Linked DNA regions of Homo sapiens. The protein of the gene in region 2 interacts with the protein of the main gene of each other region in a pairwise test. Each region holds a gene or a part of one and is shown on either strand. Other genes may lie near its edges.

Evidence for each region.
Region 1: the proteins of CYB5A (region 2) and UGT1A4 interact in a two-hybrid assay, tested with the Homo sapiens proteins (one large-scale study listed by BioGRID and IntAct).

Annotation. Positions count from the first base shown.
Region 1 is NC_000002.12:233,763,663-233,767,479, reverse strand, and holds part of UGT1A4 (UDP-glucuronosyltransferase 1A4 precursor), read right to left. Parts: intron 447-3,817; coding exon 315-446; intron 1-314. Other genes in the region: UGT1A1 (UDP-glucuronosyltransferase 1A1 precursor), read right to left, coding at 315-446; UGT1A3 (UDP-glucuronosyltransferase 1A3 precursor), read right to left, coding at 315-446; UGT1A5 (UDP-glucuronosyltransferase 1A5 precursor), read right to left, coding at 315-446; UGT1A6 (UDP-glucuronosyltransferase 1A6 isoform 1 precursor), read right to left, coding at 315-446; UGT1A7 (UDP-glucuronosyltransferase 1A7 precursor), read right to left, coding at 315-446; UGT1A9 (UDP-glucuronosyltransferase 1A9 precursor), read right to left, coding at 315-446; UGT1A10 (UDP-glucuronosyltransferase 1A10 precursor), read right to left, coding at 315-446; UGT1A8 (UDP-glucuronosyltransferase 1A8 precursor), read right to left, coding at 315-446.
Region 2 is NC_000018.10:74,253,740-74,257,556, forward strand, and holds part of CYB5A (cytochrome b5), read right to left. Parts: intron 3,115-3,817; coding exon of another isoform or gene 3,106-3,114; exon of another isoform or gene 2,200-3,105; intron 2,037-2,199; coding exon 2,002-2,036; intron 1-2,001.

The DNA.
Region 1 (3,817 bases), on a different chromosome or scaffold from region 2:
TATTTAATATGAAGAAACAATATCCCATTTATTTTATTTTTAAATAAATTCTCCCTAATACACTTTTGAGTCTCTTAGAGAAAATGATACTTCTGAGTGTGGTGGATCATAGTTTAATAGAGTATTTGAGAGTCAAATTGAAAACAATGACAACAACCACAACAACAAAAAAAACCTTTGGATTAATAGTTGGGAAGTGGCAGGGAAAAGCCAAATCTAAGGTTCCAATTAAGAGAATTAATCTGGAAGCTGGAAGTCTGGGATTAGCGCTCCTGTGAAAATAGATATGAGGCCATGGTATAGAATCTTCTTACTGTCTGAGGGATTTTGCCCAAAGCATCAGCAATTGCCATAGCTTTCTTCTCTGGAATTTCTGAGACCATTGATCCCAAAGAGAAAACCACAATTCCATGTTCTCCAGAAGCATTAATGTAGGCTTCAAATTCCTAGAGCCAGAAGAAAAATTTTCAGTTAATTTTTTCTCATATTCTTTGATGACTACATACAGTAAGTTATGAATTAGATATCTTCCTCTTAAGACTATGATTAAAGGCATGCGTGTTTGAGATAGAGTAAAAAATTATTAATATGTAAGTTTTACAGCATTTTCCTCTCCTTTACTTCCTTCTAAAGGAGGAAGGGTTCCTGCTTACAGAATTATCCTTGAGATGCAAAATCCAGGTAATGTGCTAGTTTTCCAAAAGAAAAGCACAGGTACATGCACACACATGCACACACCTGTACATACACACAGTGATAATTCCACTTAGAGAACACAGAGCAAGGCATCAGTGATACAGAAGGGAAGAGCTGGGAAGGGCGTGGTCCCTTTAAATGATATGGAAGTAGGGAAGGGAAGTGCTGGGTAGAAGAGGGTGTGGTCCCTGGCGAGGGCTCCACCCCCAGACCTGTGCCCATGGACCTAGGTGAGGACAGGCATTTTTGTTTTCCTGCCTAAATGTTTCATTTCCCAAAACCACCCTGGCCTGCCACGCCCCCATCATGTGCCTATAAAAACCCCAAGACCCTAGCAGGCAGACACACAGGTAGCTGGACATCGGGAGGAGCACATCAGCGGAGGGACGCAAGGACAGCTGGACATTGAGAAGAACTCACCAACAGGCACCGGCAGGCCACTGACCAGCAGAACAACGCGGAGTTTGGCTGAGGCAGTCGGAGGAGAGCCCAGGCCACCGAGCCCGGGCCACCGAGCCCGGGCCACTGAGCGGTCTGACTCCAGGGGAAACCCTTCCCATTCCATCCCCTTCTGGCTTCCCCCATCTGCTGAGAGCTACATCCACTCAATAAATCCTTGCACTCATTCTCCAAGCCCAGGTGGGATTCGATTCTTCTGGTACACCAAGGCAAGCCCCCAGGATACAGAAAGCCCTCTGTCCTTGCGACAAGGTAGAGGGTGTAATTGAGCTGGTTAACACAAGCTGACTATAGAGGGCAAAACTAAAAGAAGGCCATAACCCACGCCCACTGGAGCTTCAGGAGCTGTAAACATCCACCTCTAGACACTGCCGGTGAGGTCAGAGCCCCACAACCTGCCCGTCTGTATGCTCCCCTAGAGGTTTGAGCAGTGGCGCACTGAGAAAGTGAGCCCCTCCCGCTGTCACATGCTCTGTGAGGGGGACAAGGAAAGTTTTCCTGTTTCATCAACATGGCAATTCTTTTCTCACTGTAGATTTTCAGTGGTCCAATGAATCCCCCAAGAATCTCTCAAATGGCTTTATGGGTTTATTTATTATTATTATTATTATTAATTATTATTATTATTATTTACTTGAAGTTCTGGGATACATATGCCATGGTGGTTTGCTGCACCTATTGACCTATCCTCTAAGTTCCTCCCCTCACCCCTCACCCCGCCACAAGCCCTGGTGTGTGTTGTTCCCCTCCCTGCGTCTACGCATTCTCACTGTTCAACTCCCACTTATGAGTGAGAACATGCGGTGTTTGATTTTCTGTTCCTGTGTTAGTTTGTGGAGGATGATGGCTTCCAGCTTCATCCATGTCCTTGCAAAGAATATGATCTCATTCCTTGTTATGGCTGCATAGTATTCCATGGTGTATATGTACCACATTTTCTTTATCCAATCTACCATTGATGGGCATCTGGGTTGGTTCCATGACTTTGTTATTGTGAATAGTGCTGCAATAAACAAATATGTGCATGTGTCTTTATAGTAGAATAATTTATATTTCTTTGGGTATATACCCAGTAATGGGATTACTGAGTCTATGGTTTTATGTTTGCAAAGAATACTGAGGGCACTAATATGATTGTGTGATGTGGCAGGGCTTGCCCAAACTGAGGGGTTCCCTAGGACATGTGATGTTCAGTGCTAAAACCTGAACAGTCCTGAGGAAGCCAGGATGCTGGTCACCCTAGATGTGAGACACAGGAGACCTCTGACAGGGCTCAGCAAACGCAATTTGCACAGCAGGACTCCTGCCAAGCCTGATTTGGAACATGACCAGGAAAGCCCCAGACACTGACCATCCTTCTCCCAAGGTGAGCCCTCTCTCCCCGCCACTCTCACCAGCCCCAGGCCCTCGTGAGTCCTCTGGCTCTTAAGGGCTTTGTCTTTGCCTTTTCCCTTGGGCTCATCTAAAAGTCAGGGAGGACAGAGTCATCCTCCCCACCACCATGCTGCATTTTTTGGTTTGTAGCAAGAACACCCTGAGGATGGTTTTTCTGAACTCCTTCCTCCCTAGGGTCTGCACCACATCTCTCCCCTCTTTCTCTCCCTCTTTCTTGGGGAGACACAGCTCATTTCCAAGTGCTCTTCAAGTTCTTTCTTCTGAGCGTTGGTAAATGGCTTACTTAAATTTCCTAGGACCTTTGCTCTTCATGAAACCCACTCTTACACTGAAGCTCATCTGGAAAAGGCCGAGTCTAAGTTCTCCTCCAGGCACACCCTCCCACACGCCCACTCAGCAATCAGCAGGATGTGATTCACACAAAATTGAACCCACAGGTCCATAAACATTCGAAGTTAAATAGCAGGAGATCACGAAAGTTTAAATGGCACAAAAGTTCATCTGGAGATTCACGCAGGGCAAACTGCAGAGAAGTTGTCATCACGGCCAACTCCTACCTGAGCCAGCTACTATGAGGCTCAATAAAGGTGAAGTCCATCCCCTACTTGGCAAAGCTTCCCTTAAACTTCACCCTGACTTCACAGTTACCGGAATGACCAAAGAGTGAAGCAACATATTAACTGAAAATAACACTCCAATCCCCCACCATTGATTCCCTTCAAAGAAAAGATGAGATGCCCCTGAATGAGAGAATTTCCCTGTTCTGATGAGACTTCACCAGCCAAAATGAGACATTTAACATAACTCCTAAACTTTACCAAGAATTTTGTATTTTTAGTTTAGGCTTTTAATTAGATTTTCCCTTCCCAAATGCATTTCATTTTCCCAGAATTCTTCTTTAGCACTTAGACACCATGTGGGTCATCTGTGACTTCACCATCACGCATTCCCAGTAACCCACATATATCTCAACCTTCCCTGCTCCCAAGCTTTCCTCTCCTGGCCATCTCGAAGCCTTGGTCCTCACTAATCTTCTGTTTAGTTATTTTTCTCAGACCCAGCATTGCGATTGTCTGTGAACCACTGCTATCTTACCCTGGCAGGGGAGGAACATCTTGGAATTCTTGAGTTTCATTCCTTTTCTCCCAATGTTGTTCCACTATCTCTTTTCCTTCAGACACACCAAAGACACGCCAATGCCAGGTTGTGCTTTCTCTATGGACTTCTTTGTGCAATAAAAGTTTTATCTTTATTCTTAAAGTTCAGG
Region 2 (3,817 bases):
CAGAAAATTACCAGGGCATGTTTTTCTTAACTCTGTAATGAATTTTGCTGAAAAGGCAACGTGGATTTGCTAAAAGTGACATGAGTGTAACACATGCCCTGCTATACTAGGAATCACTCTGCCCTGCTGGCTTTATGAGAAAACTCATGCCCCACTTGGCTGGGCTCAGTGGCTCACGCCTGTAATCCCAGCACTTTGGGAGGCCAAGGCAGACGGATCACTTGAGGTCAGAAGTTTGAGACCAGCCTGGCCAACATAGTAAAAACCTTCTACCAAAAAATACAAAAAGTAGCTGGGCGTGGTGGCAGTAGCTAATTGTAATCCCAGCTACTTGGGAGGCTGGGGCAGGAGAATCGCTTGAACCTGGGAGGCAGAGGTTGCAGTGAGCCGAGATCACGCCACTGCACTCCAGCCTGTGTGATAGAGCGAGACTGTCTCAAAAACAAACTAACAAAAATAAACAAACCAAAAAATGAATGCCCCACCAGCTGTAAAGTTGAAGAGTATGGGCCCTGTGATGATTAACACTGCCATTAACACCACAGCTTTAAGCTTAGGTTTGGAAAATCTAATCTTTACTACCTGTGCTGAAGTGGATTTAAAGGGTTAAGAAACAGAATGGCCAGACTACTTGGTGTGTGGTCCACAGGTCTAAATTCACCAAAAAAAAAAAAAAAAAAGCCTAAATTTACAGTCCTGATGCATAGAATTTCGATCTATAAATTACAGATTACAAATCAAATCAGGGACAAAGGAGGGATGAGCTATAATTTCTATTTGAATCTTTTTTTTTTTTTTGATACAGAGTCTTGCTCTGTTGCTCAGGCTGGAGTGCAGTGGCACGATCTTGGCTCACTGCAAGCTCCGCCTCCTGGGTTCACACCATTCTCCTGCCTCAGCCTCCCGAGTAGCTGGAACTACAGGCGCCCGCCACCATGCCCGGCTAATTTTTTTGTATTTTTAGTAGAGACAGGGTTTCACTGTGTTAGCCAGGATGGTCTCGATCTCCTGACCTCGTGATCCACCTGCCTCGGCCTCCCAAAGTGCTGGGATTACAGGCGTGAGCCACCGCGCCTGGCCTCTATTTGAATCTTTAAATTAGATTTGAATCTTTAGATTTTGATCTTTGACTTAATTTCTTAGAAAAATGGAAATTAATGTGTAGGCTTTAGAAATAGACTTGGTATACATATGTGTTTCATAGGGACTACAAGTATAATCCTTTCATAAGGATTACAAGTGAAACTTTCATAAGAATTACAAGTGTAACTTTTGTCTTAGTGGGGTTTGGTGGGGTTTTTCAATTTCACTTTAGAAAGAAACTGGCTTGTTAATGAAGAGTAAGGTGAAATACTGCCTGCAGGCAGGGAATATTCCAGAACACCAACGGACTGAGGCAGTTAAATTTGACAGGATGAAATACAAATGTGTGGTTTTGAGCTTGGGTCCAAAAAAGTGGCTACTACTGAAGTCAATATGGTAGAGCTGCCAAAGATGTTAATGTGCACTTGGACTATCATAAACAAATCTGGTGCCTAGAACAATTGAGTCGTGCTACACATAGATTACCAGCTTCAACTTTAAAGCTAATAAAAATGACAAAGGAAAACTGACCCATGTTTAGGGAAATGTAATCACTAGAGTTTAAGAAACAGACATGGATTGAAAGGAAGGAAATGTCTGCTTGGATGAGCCAGGGAGGTGCTGTGGGACTGGCCGCCTAAGATGCTGCCCTGGGGGAAAAGGAAATGCAATTGTTCTGTTTGTTCCTTGGGGTGGATGCAGCCAGCCAGCTAGATCACGTGGCTGTGGACAGTGTTCACAGTCGGCTACCTGAAAGTTTGAGGCTGAGTGCTCTGAACAGTCTGGCCTTCAGCAGAAGGTTGCTGAGACAGCACAGTGTCAGGCCCAGGAACCCAGAAGGTGGGGGACGCACCTTGTCCAACCTGGACCCATGAGCCCTCCCACCCACTACTGCTTTAAAAGAAAGCTACCACATACCTGGAACTAGAATCAATAGTAGTGATAAGAGTTTCCTGAAACACGAGAGGAAAAAGTAAAGTAAGTTCAAGGGAATGCTGAACTTATTTCATTGACTAAAATCCTGTTTGAAAATAAGAACACAATATTTTATGCAATGCATTCTTCAGAAGATGTCGAAAGGGAAAATTATAAACTTCTTTTCACTAAAATGCCTAACTTTGTTTTCTTCCAGAGTAAAACATTTTAATCATTATATTTACTTAAGGACATAACCTCAATAATTTAAAAACATTCAAAATTAATATGCTACATAAAATATCTTGCACACGCTAGGCATCTAAATAATGCAGAAACTGAAAACAGACATTCATGTTCACATACACACAATCCCACGTCACCTTTAGAAAAAGCAGTTTAATTCTTCAAAAGCATGAACACAATGTTCAATAAAAACATCAGTTATTTCATTCAAATCTGACAGATGTAAAAAAGTGTACCTAAATTACATTAAATATATGTGAACCAAAAAGAAAAAAGAGGACTGCCATTTTAAGTTCTACATTCTAGGCCAACTTTCCCGGGGGGCTGCTTTAATTCTGACCAGACGGAACCAGCAAGACACCAGACCAGCCTCACAGGACTGCTGTGCCCGGCGTCACACTTGTCACCAGCTGGTCACTGTCAGCCTAACAGCAAATCCCCAGATAAGGAAGCCCTGTTTTTATCCTCCAGAGCTTTCTGGGAGCAGCTCTTTTGAGTAGCACTAAAGTGAATGGACAATGGTTCTGGAAAAACGCATACTTCTCCAACAGCTGAAAAGCTAAGGTCTAGTGAAATATCAACTTTTTGGGGCTTGAAAATGGGTTAAGAAGCATTCTTTTGATGTTCCACACCAACATAAGCATTAGGGCCTCAAACAGAAGTTGCCATAAATAAGACAGCTTCAGATCTGCAGTTTCCCAAAGCAAAGATAAAAAGCATTAGCAAAACAATCAGCGGCCTGCAGTAAGGCAAGCATCACTCTGCAAAGCACGTTAGAGAAACTCCCGTGAAAAGACAGACCCCTTTCAGGGAAAAGCAAGCAAAGCAGTTATGAGACCCACCAACCTTGAAACACCGCCTTTAAGGTTCCTGACACAGTAGGGGAAAAAAGGTAAGTCATTTAAAAATAAAATTGCAAATTTATTATCTATTCCAGCAATTTTAAAATCTTAGCATCTATAAAAAGTATTCATAACTACAGCAAGAGGATTTTCCAAATTGTGTATATATGAATAAAATTAACAAAAATTACTAGAAATAATCAAAATATACAAAAATATTAGTTAGCTATTAGAGGACACAATCAGTTCTGAAACAAAAGAATCACTGAAGGTAAAATATGATTGTCAAACTAGAAAGTTAAGTTTGAAACAGCCAACGGAAGGCAAACACAAACATCCACGGCGTCGTTAAAATGAGGGCAGGCATTTCACCAACGTGCTGACAACTCTGGAACCTCCCACCTGCCCTCCTGCTGCCTTTGTGGTTACCATGGGAGAGCGCTAAGGTTAAAACACTACTCTGGCACCAGCATCATCAGCAACAGCCATGAACTCTAAAGAGGGGAACTTGAAATAATCGTATCACCTTTTGATTGTTGATTATCTTCTTGGCTCTGTAGCCCAGGATGCTTGACAGTTAAAGGAAGTTTGAATTACCACTTTGCACTTTGATGGAAAAGTAATTGGTCTTTAGTGGTCAGTGCTCTGAGGGCCTCACTTGGGTTTAGGGACGTGACTATCAAAGAATGTCAGCAATGAACAAGGAGAAAGAATATGGTTTTTATGATTGG